2 separate regions of the Homo sapiens genome follow, and region 1 is linked to region 2. The links come from fine-mapping of genetic effects on gene expression. A gene starts in region 2. The other region holds a variant in brackets. All regions are shown on one strand. Distances are between the middles of the regions. Region 1 overlaps SRGAP2 (SLIT-ROBO Rho GTPase activating protein 2). Region 2 holds the start of IKBKE (inhibitor of nuclear factor kappa B kinase subunit epsilon).

Region 1 (2,910 bases), 30 kb before region 2:
ACTTCCCATCTCTTTTTCATATAAAGGCACTCATAGAAAATGGCAGTGTTTACATGGCACACTGTGGAAGTGAGAGGCTGCCTATGATGGAGGACCTGTAATTGACCTATAATTAACCTCTCCACAGCACAAGAAAACCTTTCAGGTCTCCTTCCCAATATCACTACATACCCAGGGGCCTGCTACCTCTTGCCTCAGGCCACTTTTTACTCATTCATAGTGCAGATAAGGGAGGGAGAAGATAAGCCACACTTGTCCAGAGGATGAGATGGCATGTGTGGAGTGAGCAGGACAGGCCTCTTGCACAGCCTCTCTTCCCACCGAGAAGTAGGCCCTTTGAGGCTTTGTGTTGAGCAGTTACAGCAGGTTGGCGGCAGCTCCCTGTCAGTGGTTGTTTGAATAAGAGGGTGGTAGATCCTGTGGGGAACATTTCTAACCCCATTTCCTGTGCCCAAATCCAAATCCAAACTTGTTATTAATAACAATGAGATTACAACAACCCTAGTTCAGTTTAATATTAATAATGTGTAATAACGAGTTTGGATTTGGATTTGGCACAGTTCCCTGTGCCCAAGAAGTATACACCTTACATCCGGCAATGGTAAATGTCTGGAGCCCAGCAGGTGCCCTCTTCTAACAGCCCTACTCCAAGGAGCAACAGGGATGACACTCCTGTCACTGCACCAGTGCTGTGCGTGGGCTTGATCTGATGCTGTCCGTGTTGCCCCTGCTGGTAGTAGGGACTTCTGATCATTACTGCCTGGGATCCCAGTCATAGTGGAGGATAACACATGGCTTTCTTCTTTTCAGCAATGGACAACCTGCAGGAGAGAGCTCTGCACATCCGGAAAGTCCTCCTAGTCCTGCCCAAAACCACTCTGATTATCATGAGATACCTCTTTGCCTTCCTCAATCAGTGAGTAGCCTTCCCAGTGAACAGCTGGATCAGGCTTTGGCTTGGGCACTGGAAGTTCCTCTATGGACCTATGCCTATTCATCCATCCCAACAAAATATTTATTGAGCACCTACTGTGTGCTAGCCACAGTGCTAGACTTATTTAATACATCGTTAAATAAAAGATGAAAGCCTTGATATAATTTAGCTCCTGTTCCAGGGAAGGAAACAGCCAATAACAGATATATCAGGTAGAATAAGTGCTTAGAAGAAAAATAAAAAAGAGTAAAGAGAGGGGAAAGAGTAAAGGGGTCTGAATGAAAGGAGGGAGAAGCACTGTAGTTGAGGTGGACAGCAGAGGCCTGCCTGAGAAGACAGTGTACAAGCAGCAGCCCAGAGGAGGAGAAAAGAGTGCCACGGGGCCATTTAAAACCCCAGAGTCATGGTAATAGCGAGTTTGGATTTGGATTTGGGAAGCAATTAGAAGATTTTCTTTTTTTTTTTTTGAGACGGAGTCTTGCTCTGTCTCCAGGCTGGAGTACAGTGGAGC[G/A]ATCTTGGCTTACTGCAACCTCTGCCTCCTAGGTTCAAGCGATTCTCCTGCCTCAGCCTCCTGAGTAGCTGGGACCCAGGCGCATGCCACCACGCCCAGCTAATTTTTGTATTTTTAGTAGACATGGGGTTTCACCACGTTGGCCAAGATGGTCACCATCTCTTGACCTCGTGATGTGCCCACCTCAGCCTCCCAAAGTGCTGGGATTACAGGCGTGAGCCACCGCACCCGGCATGTTACTATCTGATTTGTGTATTTTATTTTTTTAAAAACTGCCAACTGCTTTGTGGAGAAGTTACTGGAAAGGGTCATGAAGAGAAACAGGGAGACCCTATCCCAAGGTTACCATCTGGTCTGGCCAGAGGTGTTAGTGGCTGAGTCTGGAGAGCGGTGAGGAGGGGTCAGGTTTGTGATACATTTTGAACATAGCATTAACAGGATTTGCCCATGGATTATACATAGAATATGGAGAGAGAAATCCTAAATTGTTGGCATGAGCGACAGGGACATAGGGTGGTCATTTATGGAGTTGGAGAAGACAAGGTGTGGAGAAAGGAATCAAGACAATGTGTTGATGTGGTCATGGTCATTTGAGGCACTTGTGAGATGTCCAAGTGGAGATTTTGAACAATTGGACCTAGGAATCCAACCCTTAAGGGAGAAACCAGGAGTGGAGCTGCCAGTGCAGGAGTTGCCCATGTACTGGTGGTATTTAGCTAATCACCCAGGGAACGGATGTGTCTACAACAAAGGTCTGAGGAGCAGAGGGGGCCGCGGGTGTGGATGGGGCATTTCTTCTCGTCCAAGCAGCATGTCCTTGTGTGGAGCAAGCTTTGGAGTCCCCACATGACAGGAAAGGCACCAAGCAAGGACATGTGATTCTTCCCCTCTGAGGCACCTCTGTCTTTTCACTTTGGTTTTGCTGCAGTTTCGCCCTCAACAGCCTAGACCAAAGGTTATAAATGGGCACCCTGAGAGCCAGATAAAGCCGAAGATGTGTTCTCTTCAGGTGTCTATTGTGTCTTGAGAACAATGAAATCATACTTACATTTGGGGAAATTTCACTTTTTAAAAACCTAGATTTCTAGCTTCTTTTGAAAAATTATTAGATCTGGTGATACTGACTCTGCAGTCCCTGGTGGCAGCAATTCCCTGTGGAGTAAGGGCTGTACTCCCTAGATGGGGCAGGCACTCCCCAATTCACCACAGTCCCCAGCCCTCCCCGTTGTCCCCCAATCCTGAGGCTGAATTCAGTTGCTATTTATCATCACTCTTGTTTTGTGGTTTTCATAGAGAACAAAAATGTTTCTCTGGATCCATGAATCTATCAGAGTAGGGGAAACAAAAGGTAAACCAAGGGACCCAGGTGTTTTTGCACATATTTCTTTGTGAAAATGAGGAGCCTTCTACAAGGTTAGTCTCTGCTTAAAAGGAATACAACTTTAGAGACCATTTCATAAGTGTC
Region 2 (2,910 bases):
GGGAGACTGAGGCAGGTGGATCAGGAGGTTGGGAGATCTAGACCAACCTGCTCAATCCACCTCACCAACCACACAGTGAAACCCCATCTCTACTAAAAATACAAAAAATTAGCCACTGGCTCACGCCTGTAATCCCGGCACTTTGGGAGGCTGAGGCAGGTGGATCAGGAGGTTGGGAGATCAAGTCCAACCTGTTCAATCCACCTCACCAACCACACAGTGAAACCCCATCTCTACTAAAAATACAAAAAGTTAGCCGGGCATGGTGGTGCATGCCTGTAGTCCCAGATACTTGGGAGGCTGAGGCAGAAGAATCACTTGAACCCAGGAGGTGGAGGTTGCAGTGAGCTAACATCATGCCACTGCACTCCAGCCTGGGTGACAGAGTGAGACTCCATCTCAAAAAAAAAAAGCAAGCTGGGAAGACTGGGTGGAACATGAGGATCTCAGGCACTCAGGCACATTCCTCCTGGTCCTGATGTGAGAAGTTGCAGCAACTCCTCCAGCTGGAGGTGTTATGGGGAGTTCTCTTTATCTGAGCACTAGGCAGTTCTCAGCTCTGCTCCTGTTCTAGTGTCACTGTGGGAGGGGTGGGGCTGGCGGAGGAAACCACCAGGTGTGGCCATGGGAAAGTCCCTCCAACATTCTATAGAAACATGGAATTTCCTGGTTTTAACCATTTCATATCCAACTGCCATCTCTGAGCTGACCAGAGCAGGACAGACCCCTCCAGCCTCCTAGGACATTTGATGTGGGGCATCGAGTCCTGGCTGGGAAGTTGGCACCTGGGTGCCAGCCCCAGCAGTCTCTGAAGAGCATGGGTAAATTACTGAAGTGTGTGGGCCTCCATGCCTTCAATGCCTTTCTGTAAAATGCTTTCCAAGCTCCCAAACAATTCCAAATATATCCATGTCATCCAATCAACCCACAGAGTAGCTGTTACTCTGCGGGTGAGTGAGCTGGCTGGGAGGGGCTGCATGCTGTGTGCTCAGGTCACACTGGAAGGCATCAGCTGGGTCCCCGCGCTTGCTCTCGGACCTCTGCAGGCCTCCTGGGAAGGTGACTCAGATCCAACTTCTAGGACTGGATCGGCATAGCTCCCACACTTCCTTGGGGTTCCTGGGTGTGGGAGCATGGACTTCCCAGGCAGCTTTCCACTTAGTTAACTTGCCCAACCTGCTCTGTTGACTCTGGGAAGAGCCCTGAACTTCCCTGCTCCAGTGAACTGTGGGAGATGCCAAAACAGCACCCAGCTGCCCATCAAGATTACCAGAAGGGCCCCAGTTCCTGGCTTCTCTGTGGCTCACACTCTGGTCCTATTGCCTACCCTTGGGAACTCAGAGCATCCTCTTTCTCTTTTCTGCTGAGCTGGTGGCTGCACCGAGTTGCCTCTGTCTCTTTAAGAGAGAAAGAGAGAGCGAGAGACGGAAATCAGGAAGTGCGAGAGAGCTGAGAGCCAGGACTCAGTGCTGAGCTTGGTGTCCCACCGCCACAAGGAGGCAGGGAAGAAACCCACTAGTCCCAGCTCCTGGGGTGGCACAGACATTGCAACTGGCCCTGCCTGTGGGTCCTAGGGGCCCTTGGCTACCAGGAGGCTAAGAACACTGCTCATGAATGACAGTGAGCCCTGAAAGCTCTGGGGGTGTCACCCAGTCCCACAAGCCTGCATCCCCTGCAGTGGAGATGGGGTGAGTGTGCAGCGTGCGGAGGGGGGTGGGGGTGGAATGAGGGGCCAGACAAGGGGCAGCTGCAGGGCAGCTCAGCCGGGTGCAGGGGTGTGGGCTTGTTGGCAGCGGTGCTCTCACATAGAGCGTTGTGTGTGGCATGGAGGTGAGCCACCACGGGCCAACCACAAGCCCTCCCTGGGCTCTGCTTACCAACACCCAAAGCCAGCGATCAGCACCCAGCGCCTGCCCTCACCTTTCCCGGGGTCTTTCTCCCTGGCCGGAGTCTCAGGAGTAGGAGACGCTGGGAAAGGCTCCCTGAACAGTTTGGGAATAGAGCTGGAAACCCCCAGCCCAGCCCTGTGGGGGAAGGTGACAAACAGGAAAGGGTTAAAGGGCTAGGGCCGGCGGCCTTTGATGGAGGCTGAGAAGCAACTGCACTGAGGGGCGCCTCTCATCCGCCCTCCTCTTTCCGGTGTAGCTCAGCTCCTGGACGTGCCACAGACAGAAAGCATAACATACACTCGCCAGGAAGAGCCTTTGCCTGACTCAGGGCAGCTCAGAGTGTGGGGTAAGTGCACTTGGCCACAGCAGAGCCCTGAGGAGGGAGGGGAGGGGAGAGGTGGGTGGGTGGTGTCTCACATGCTTCACTGTCCACTGCTCATTCATCCAACCACTGGCTGAGGGCCACTGAGCCCTTCTTTGCACCAGGTGCTTGGGGTGGTGGGGGGAGGATCTGCAGAGCGTGCAGAGTTAAGCCAGATGTGCCACAACCAGAGCTCCCGGGCACAGAATCCAGGGGCACACCGCTTGTCTGGGGGTCTGCGCTTTGCACCTCACTGCCTATTATCCCAGAGTCCTGAGCTGTTCCTTGCCCCAGTATCAGAGCCCTTGGCCTTGATTTCAGCCTGCTGTGCTCCAACCCCAGCCCCAGCCCCCAGACCTGCTGGCTGCCTCCAGCCTCAGCGGGGAAAACCAGACCCACTCATTCATGCTGAGCTACTGTGTTGTCTTCAGGAAGCCTCTCAGTACCTCAGTTGCTTCTGTGTAATGTCCGCTCCTACCTGATCTGAAACTAGGAGTTGACCACCGATCTCTTCAAGGGGCCTCTGGCTCAATGAAATGACATTATCAAGGATTTGCATTTTTAAAAAAGATTACACAGAGAAAAAGTTCAGAGCGAAGGAACATAGGATTCCAGGCATGGCAACCCTCAGTTTGAGAACCTGTAAGATGTTAGAACACG

The links. PIP is the estimated chance that this variant, and not a neighbour inherited with it, causes the effect. A credible set is the group of variants that fine-mapping cannot tell apart.
Region 1: its variant is the best candidate, but not a certain one, in a credible set for the expression of IKBKE in whole blood (INTERVAL, PIP 0.74).

Annotation. Positions count from the first base shown.
Region 1 is chr1:206,439,166-206,442,075 of GRCh38, forward strand. It overlaps SRGAP2 (SLIT-ROBO Rho GTPase activating protein 2), which reads left to right. Exons shown (of 23, transcript NM_015326.5): 17 at 811-916. Among named protein-coding and RNA genes, the nearest start is that of IKBKE, 30 kb to the right of the region's middle. The variant G/A (reference allele first, on the strand shown) is at 1,446.
Region 2 is chr1:206,469,011-206,471,920 of GRCh38, forward strand. It overlaps IKBKE (inhibitor of nuclear factor kappa B kinase subunit epsilon), which reads left to right and starts at 1,466. Exons shown (of 22, transcript NM_014002.4): 1 at 1,466-1,688; 2 at 2,146-2,235. RefSeq lists enhancers at 376-1,013, 533-842.